Regions from separate parts of the Homo sapiens genome. Here region 1 is linked to region 2. Evidence: fine-mapped expression QTL. A gene starts in region 2. The other region holds a variant in brackets. All regions are shown on one strand. Distances are from middle to middle. Region 1 has its middle 32 kb from the start of VASP. Region 2 holds the start of VASP (vasodilator stimulated phosphoprotein).

Region 1 (2,904 bases), 32 kb before region 2:
AGCTGGGGCTACAGGTATGAGCCACCGTGTCCTGGCCTGGTTTGTTTGTTTAAACAGCAAGGCATAATCTACACACCATGAAACTCACCCTTTGTTTTATTTTATTTTTTATTTTTTATTTTTTATTTTTTTTGAGACAGAGTCTCGCTCTGGCACCCAGGCTGGAGCACAGTGGTGCGATCTTGACTCACTGCAATTTCTGCCTCCTGGGTTCAAGCGATTCTCCTGCCTCAGCCTCCCGAGTAGCTGGGACTACAGGTGCACGCCACCACACCCGGCTAATTTTTGTATTTTTAGTAGAGACGGGGTTTCACCATGTTGGCCACGATGCTCTCAATCTCCTGAGCTCGTGATCCACCTGCCTCGGCCTCCCAAAGTGCTGGGATTACAGGCATGAGCCACTGCGCCTGGCCGAAACTCACCCATTTTAAGAGTACGATTTGATGATTTTCAGTAAACTGACATGGTTATGCAACCATCTCCACATTCCAATTTCAGAACATTTCCATCATCTCCAAAAGATCCCTCACATTCATTTGCAGTGACTCTCCATTCTCCTTCCTTCAGCCCCTAAAAATCACTGATCTACTTTCTGCCTTAATAGATTGCATTATTTGGGACATTTAATGTAAATGGAGTCATACAATGCATGGTCCATTTTATTGCATGAATATCTCATTCCTTTTTTTTTTTTTTGAGACAAGGTCTGGCTCTGTCGCCCAGGCTGGAGTGCAGTGACGCGCTGTCTGCTCACTGCAACCTCAGCCCCACCCCCGCCCAGTAGCTGGGATTACAGACATGCACCGCCACGCCCGGCTAATTTTTGTGTTTTTTGGCTGGGTGTAGTGTTCATGCCTGTAATCCCAGCACTTTGGGAGACAGAAGTGGGTGGATAGCTTGAGGTCAGGAGTTTGAGACCAGCCTGGGCAATATAGTGAGACCTCATCTCTACAAAACATACAGAAATTAGCCGAGCGTGGCAGAAAAAATAAAAATATTAAAACTTTTTTGTGATGTTTTTGTAGAGAAGGGGTTTCGCCATGTTGCCCAGGTTGGTCTTGAACTCCTGGGTTCAAGCGATGAGTAGCCTCCCAGAGTGCTGGGAATACAGGTGTGTAAGCCACTGCACCTGGCCTATGTTTAACTTTTTAAGAAACTGCCAAACTACTTTCCAAAGTGGCTGCACCATTTTACATTTCCGCCAGTGACATGCGAGAGTTTTGTTACCCTACAACTGATATAGTTTGGCTCTGTGTCCCAACCCAAATCTCATCTCGAGTTGTCATCCTCATGTGTTGAGGGAGGGAAGTGATCATGGGGGTGGTTTCCCTTATGCTGTTCTCCTGATAATGAGTGAATTCTCATGAGATCTAATGAATTTTAAAATGGCAGTTTTTCCTGCCCTTTCACTTCTCCCTCCTGCTGCCTTGTGAGGAGGTGCCTGCTTCCCCTTTGCCTTCTG[C/T]CATGATTGTAAGTTTCCTGAGGCCTCCCCAGCCATTCAGAACTGTAAGTCAACTAAACCTCTTTCCTTTATAATTACCCATTCTCAGGAATTTCTTTATAGCTGTGTGAAAACTGACTAATACAGAAACTTTGGAAGCATTAGTGGTTGTTCACTGTTTTGACTATAGCCATTCCAGTGGCTGGGAAATGGCATCTCATTGTGAATTTGACTTGTATTGCTCTACTAACTAATGTGTTGAGCATCTTTTCTTTTTTTTTTTTTTGAGACGGAGTCTCACTTTTTTGCCCAGGCTGGAGTGCAATGGCACAATTTTGGCTCACTGCAACCTCCGCCTCCCAGGTTCAAGGAATTCTCTTGCCTCAGCCTCCCAAGTAACTGGAATTACAGGCACACGCCACCACACCTGGCTAATTTTTGTATTTTCAGTAGAGACAGGTAGTTTCACCATGTTGGCCAGCCTGGTCTCGAACTTCTGACCTCAAGTGATCTGCCCACCTCGGCCTCCCACAAATGCTGGGATTACAAGTGTAAGACACCGTGCCTGGCCTCACTTGCTTTTTTCTTGAGATAGGGACTCACTCTTTTGCCCAGGATGTAGTGCAGTAGTGCAATCACAGCTCACTGCAGTTTTGATCTTCCAGGCTCAAGCAATCCTCCCCCCTCAGCCTCCTGATGAGCTGGGACCACAGGCATACACCACCACACCCAGCTATTTTGTGTGCGTGTGTGAAGATGGGGTTTCACTATGTTGCCCTCAAATTCCTGGTCTCAAGCAATCCTCCTACCTTGATCTCCCAAAGTGCTGGGATTACAGGTGTGAGACTCCATAGCTAGCTAGAATCTTTTTTTTTTTTTTTTCAGGTGGCATTTTTTTTTTTTTTTTTGATATGGAGCCTAGCTCTGTCCTCCAGGCTGGAGTGCAGTGGTACCATCTCAGCTCACTGCAACCTGCAACCTGCACCTCCTGAATTCAGGCAGTCCTCCCGCCTCAGCCTCCTGAGTAGCTGGGACTACAGGCACACACCACCACACCCAGCTAATTTTTATTGAAAACATATATATTATGAAATATTGCAGACATACAGAAAACAATATAATGAATAACCTTGTACCCACCACTTAGAATTAATAGAAATGAACATTTTGTCCTCTTTGCTTTGGTTTTTAAAGAGAGAAAGCTGAAGCTACAGTTTAGTCTCGTCATTCTCCCTCCCTGCTCTGGCACTCGGGAGGCTGAGGCAGGAGAATCGCTTGAAACCGGAGGGCAGAGGTTGCAGTGAGCCGAGATCGCACCACTGCACTCCAGCCTGGGCAACAAGAGCGAAACTCCATCTCAAAAAAAGAAAATAAAAGAAAAGAAAAAGATACCATCCTCTTTTGTGAGTCAAGTCCTTCTCCACTAGGTTCTCTACCCTTCCCCTTTTGATTGGCAGGAGGTA
Region 2 (2,904 bases):
TCAGGTGAGCCCAGGAGTTCGGGGGAGGCCCCGGCCAGACCAAATCCCTGGGTCCCTTGGGCCGCCACCCCCAGGATTAAATTCCTGGGAAGATAGCTGGAATTATCTGGGAAGCCTGGGTCCCTAGGGAAGAGGGCTATGACCTTGAAGCTTTCCAGCTCCCCCTCCTCCAACCCCAAGGCTCCGGGTGGATAGGGGGACGGTGAGCAAAGGGGGAGGGGCCGTGGTGGGGAAGGCAGCCGGCCTACAGCGCTTGGTGCCCGCCCCCCACACCAGCTGTCTCGACAGGTGAGTCAGGAAGACAAAGGCCCCCTTCCCCCAGCTGCCGCGCCCCCTCCCTCTCCAGGGCCGCGCAGGTGGGGGAGCCGGGCCGCCCTTATGGCCGGAGGCGGGGAGCCGCCCTCTGCTCCGAGCGCCCGCTCGGTCCTAGGCACGGCCAGTTAAGCAGATTGTGTGCGGAGCGACGGGGAAGGGGGGGGTCCCACCAGACTCTGGAGGCTGCGTCCAGGTCCCTGGATCGGTTCACACCAGCCTCCTCCACAGGAAGACCTAAGTGACCCCCAAAATCCAGGGGATTAAGAAGTACCCCCGAAGTTATGGAGCGCGGTCCCACTTGGGGAGACTTTTTCCAGCACCAAGTAAACGGGGGACCTGCACACCCAGGGTCTGAGTCTCAGTCTCTCTTCCAAGTCCCAGGGTATCCCAAATCGGTCCCCCACAATCCTTCCCGGACCTCGAGCTGAAGTCTGGGGGGAGGGGGAGGAGAGTCTGAGCCCTGCCTCAATCCTGGCATCCCTGCGGGGAGTCGCTGCCAACTTTGAGGTCCTCTAAAAAAAGTCTTAACAATTCGGGAGTCCTCCGAGCGCCCCCAAATCTTGAGGGCTCCCAGGAGAACCTCACCGCCACCACCCCCCGAGCTTGGGGAGTCAGTCGTGGAGAAGTGATCGACGGTTCTGGGGCGCGTCCAAGGGGATTCAGCTCAAATCCGAGGCTCCCAAGGATCTGTCCCCAAATTCCAGCCCGGAGCTAGCTGGGGGGGAGGGGGACAAAGGCGGGGCGCGGAGCCCGCCCGGGCGGGGACGGGTCGGGGGGCAGGTCCGGCTCACCTCATGGCTGCTCGGCGGGCGGGCGGCTCGCCCACGGGCTGGCTGCTCCCGGGGCGCCCCTGGCTGGAGGTTCAGGGGTTCGGGGCTGGCTCCGGGCTCGGCTCAGGCTCCCCCAGGGTCCCGCCCCATAGAGTCCGGCTTCCTGGGGAGAATGTGGACCGGGCCGGGGCGGGTCTCCGGGCGCCGCTTCCCTCAGGCGGTCTGATGAGAGGTTCCTGCAGCAGAAAGGGGATGCAGCGTCCGCTCCCCAGCGCGCACCCCTTGCCGGTGGCGGCTACAGTGTTACTCTTACTACTGTACTTCTCTTCGTTACATTTCGTTCCAAAATTCCACTCCCCGCACCCACAATGCCCCGCGCCTTAAAGGGGCCGCGTGCGCCTCCAGGCGAGGGGGTGGAGGGCGCTTAAAAGGGCAACTCTGCACCCTCGGCTTCCGCGATCTCGCTCCTCTCCCCAATGTTGTAGCCCAGGGGTGCACCCTGGGAATCACCCCCACCTGAGGGGCAAGTTGGTGAAGGGGAAGGGGACCTCCCTTGCTTCCTAGTTCGCTCCCACTGTGGGAATTCTGAGGAGGGTCTCGGAAGGGGCGCGATTTCTTTCCCCATCGACTTCTCCATCTCGTACTCCGCTCAATTTTGGGGGTCGAGGAGGACCCTCAAGTTAAGCAAGTGGTCTCAGATTTTCTCCCTGAAATCCCATCTTCGGAACACCGCCCCTCCCCAGCGTTTCTCTTCTGTCAATTTCGGAGAGGTTACTAAGGGGGCGAGACCCCCACCCGCACGGGAGTGGAAGTCGGGGGAGTAGGGCCCAACCCCTCTCACCCCACCCCGCCCGCCCCGGGAAGGTGAGGAGGAAGTGGGCCAAGGGGGCGCGGTCGGTCGCTGACTCACAGCCGCAGGGTCGGGGGTGGGGTGGGGTGGAGGTGGGGACTGGCGAGGAGTGCGGGAGTGGGGGGCCCGGCATTCGCCCGGGGTGGGCAGGAGGCGCCGGCTTCTTTGGTGTGTAAAGCCTCCGGCCCACGCACGCCCCGCTCTGACTCAGTTTCGCCTGCGGAGGACAGCAGGATCATCCCAGCCCTCAGGAGGGCCCGGAGGTGAGGAGACCCTCCCGGGAGCCCCCGCCCCCACACGCCGGCTCCGGGCTGAGCCCAGACACCCTCTGAGGCTTCCGCAGCGTGTCTTGCCGGCCCCGCCCCGAGTGACGTCACTGATTTGGTCGCGCCCCTTGGGTAGAGCGCCACCTGGCCCGGGTGAGGCGCCCGAGCCCTGGGAAATCAGTTAGTTCCACATTTACACACGGGTAAACTGAGGCCTGGAGACAGGGAATGAATCTGGCCTATGGCCCTCTTGCCTGAGCCCCCAGAACCCGGAAAGCCACCAAGGTCTGAGTGTAAAACCAACAATTCTCAGGGCCAGCTGACTATGTGAGAGAATCCACTTTTCCAGCGTATGTCCAAGCCGAGTCCCATGTCCGGATGTTGATGTTGTCCTGACCTCCTTTACCTGGGGAGCACGTCATCCTTCCAGGCCAAGCTTTGACATTAATTCCCCTCCCCTTCTCCACCCCACTCTGGGAGACCTTGAACCCTGTTCCTCGGAGGTTATCATTGTTTCTCAGTGTGTTTCCTCAGGCTGAGTTGTCTGGGAGAATGGGTAGACTAAATTTCTTTTTTTCTTTTTTTTTTTTTGAGATGTAGTCTCTCGCTGTCACCCAGGCTGGAGGGCGCTGGCTCGATCCCCGCTTACTGCAACCTCCCCCTCCTGGGTTCAAGCAATTCTCCTGCCTCACCCTCCTAAAGT

Evidence for each region. PIP is the estimated chance that this variant, and not a neighbour inherited with it, causes the effect.
Region 1: its variant is the best candidate, but not a certain one, in a credible set for the expression of VASP in whole blood (TOPMed, PIP 0.88).

Annotation. Positions count from the first base shown.
Region 1 is chr19:45,537,546-45,540,449 of GRCh38, reverse strand. It overlaps a transcript of OPA3 not described here. Among named protein-coding and RNA genes, the nearest start is that of VASP, 32 kb to the right of the region's middle. The variant C/T (reference allele first, on the strand shown) is at 1,463.
Region 2 is chr19:45,505,979-45,508,882 of GRCh38, reverse strand. It overlaps VASP (vasodilator stimulated phosphoprotein), which reads right to left and starts at 1,404. Exons shown (of 13, transcript NM_003370.4): 1 at 1,107-1,404. The coding sequence starts at 1,111. It overlaps LOC107985314 (a long non-coding RNA gene), which reads left to right and starts at 1,509. Exons shown (of 2, transcript XR_007067269.1): 1 at 1,509-2,198. RefSeq lists silencers at 280-479, 1,074-1,253, 1,934-2,063, 2,094-2,343 and enhancers at 1,404-1,673, 955-1,739.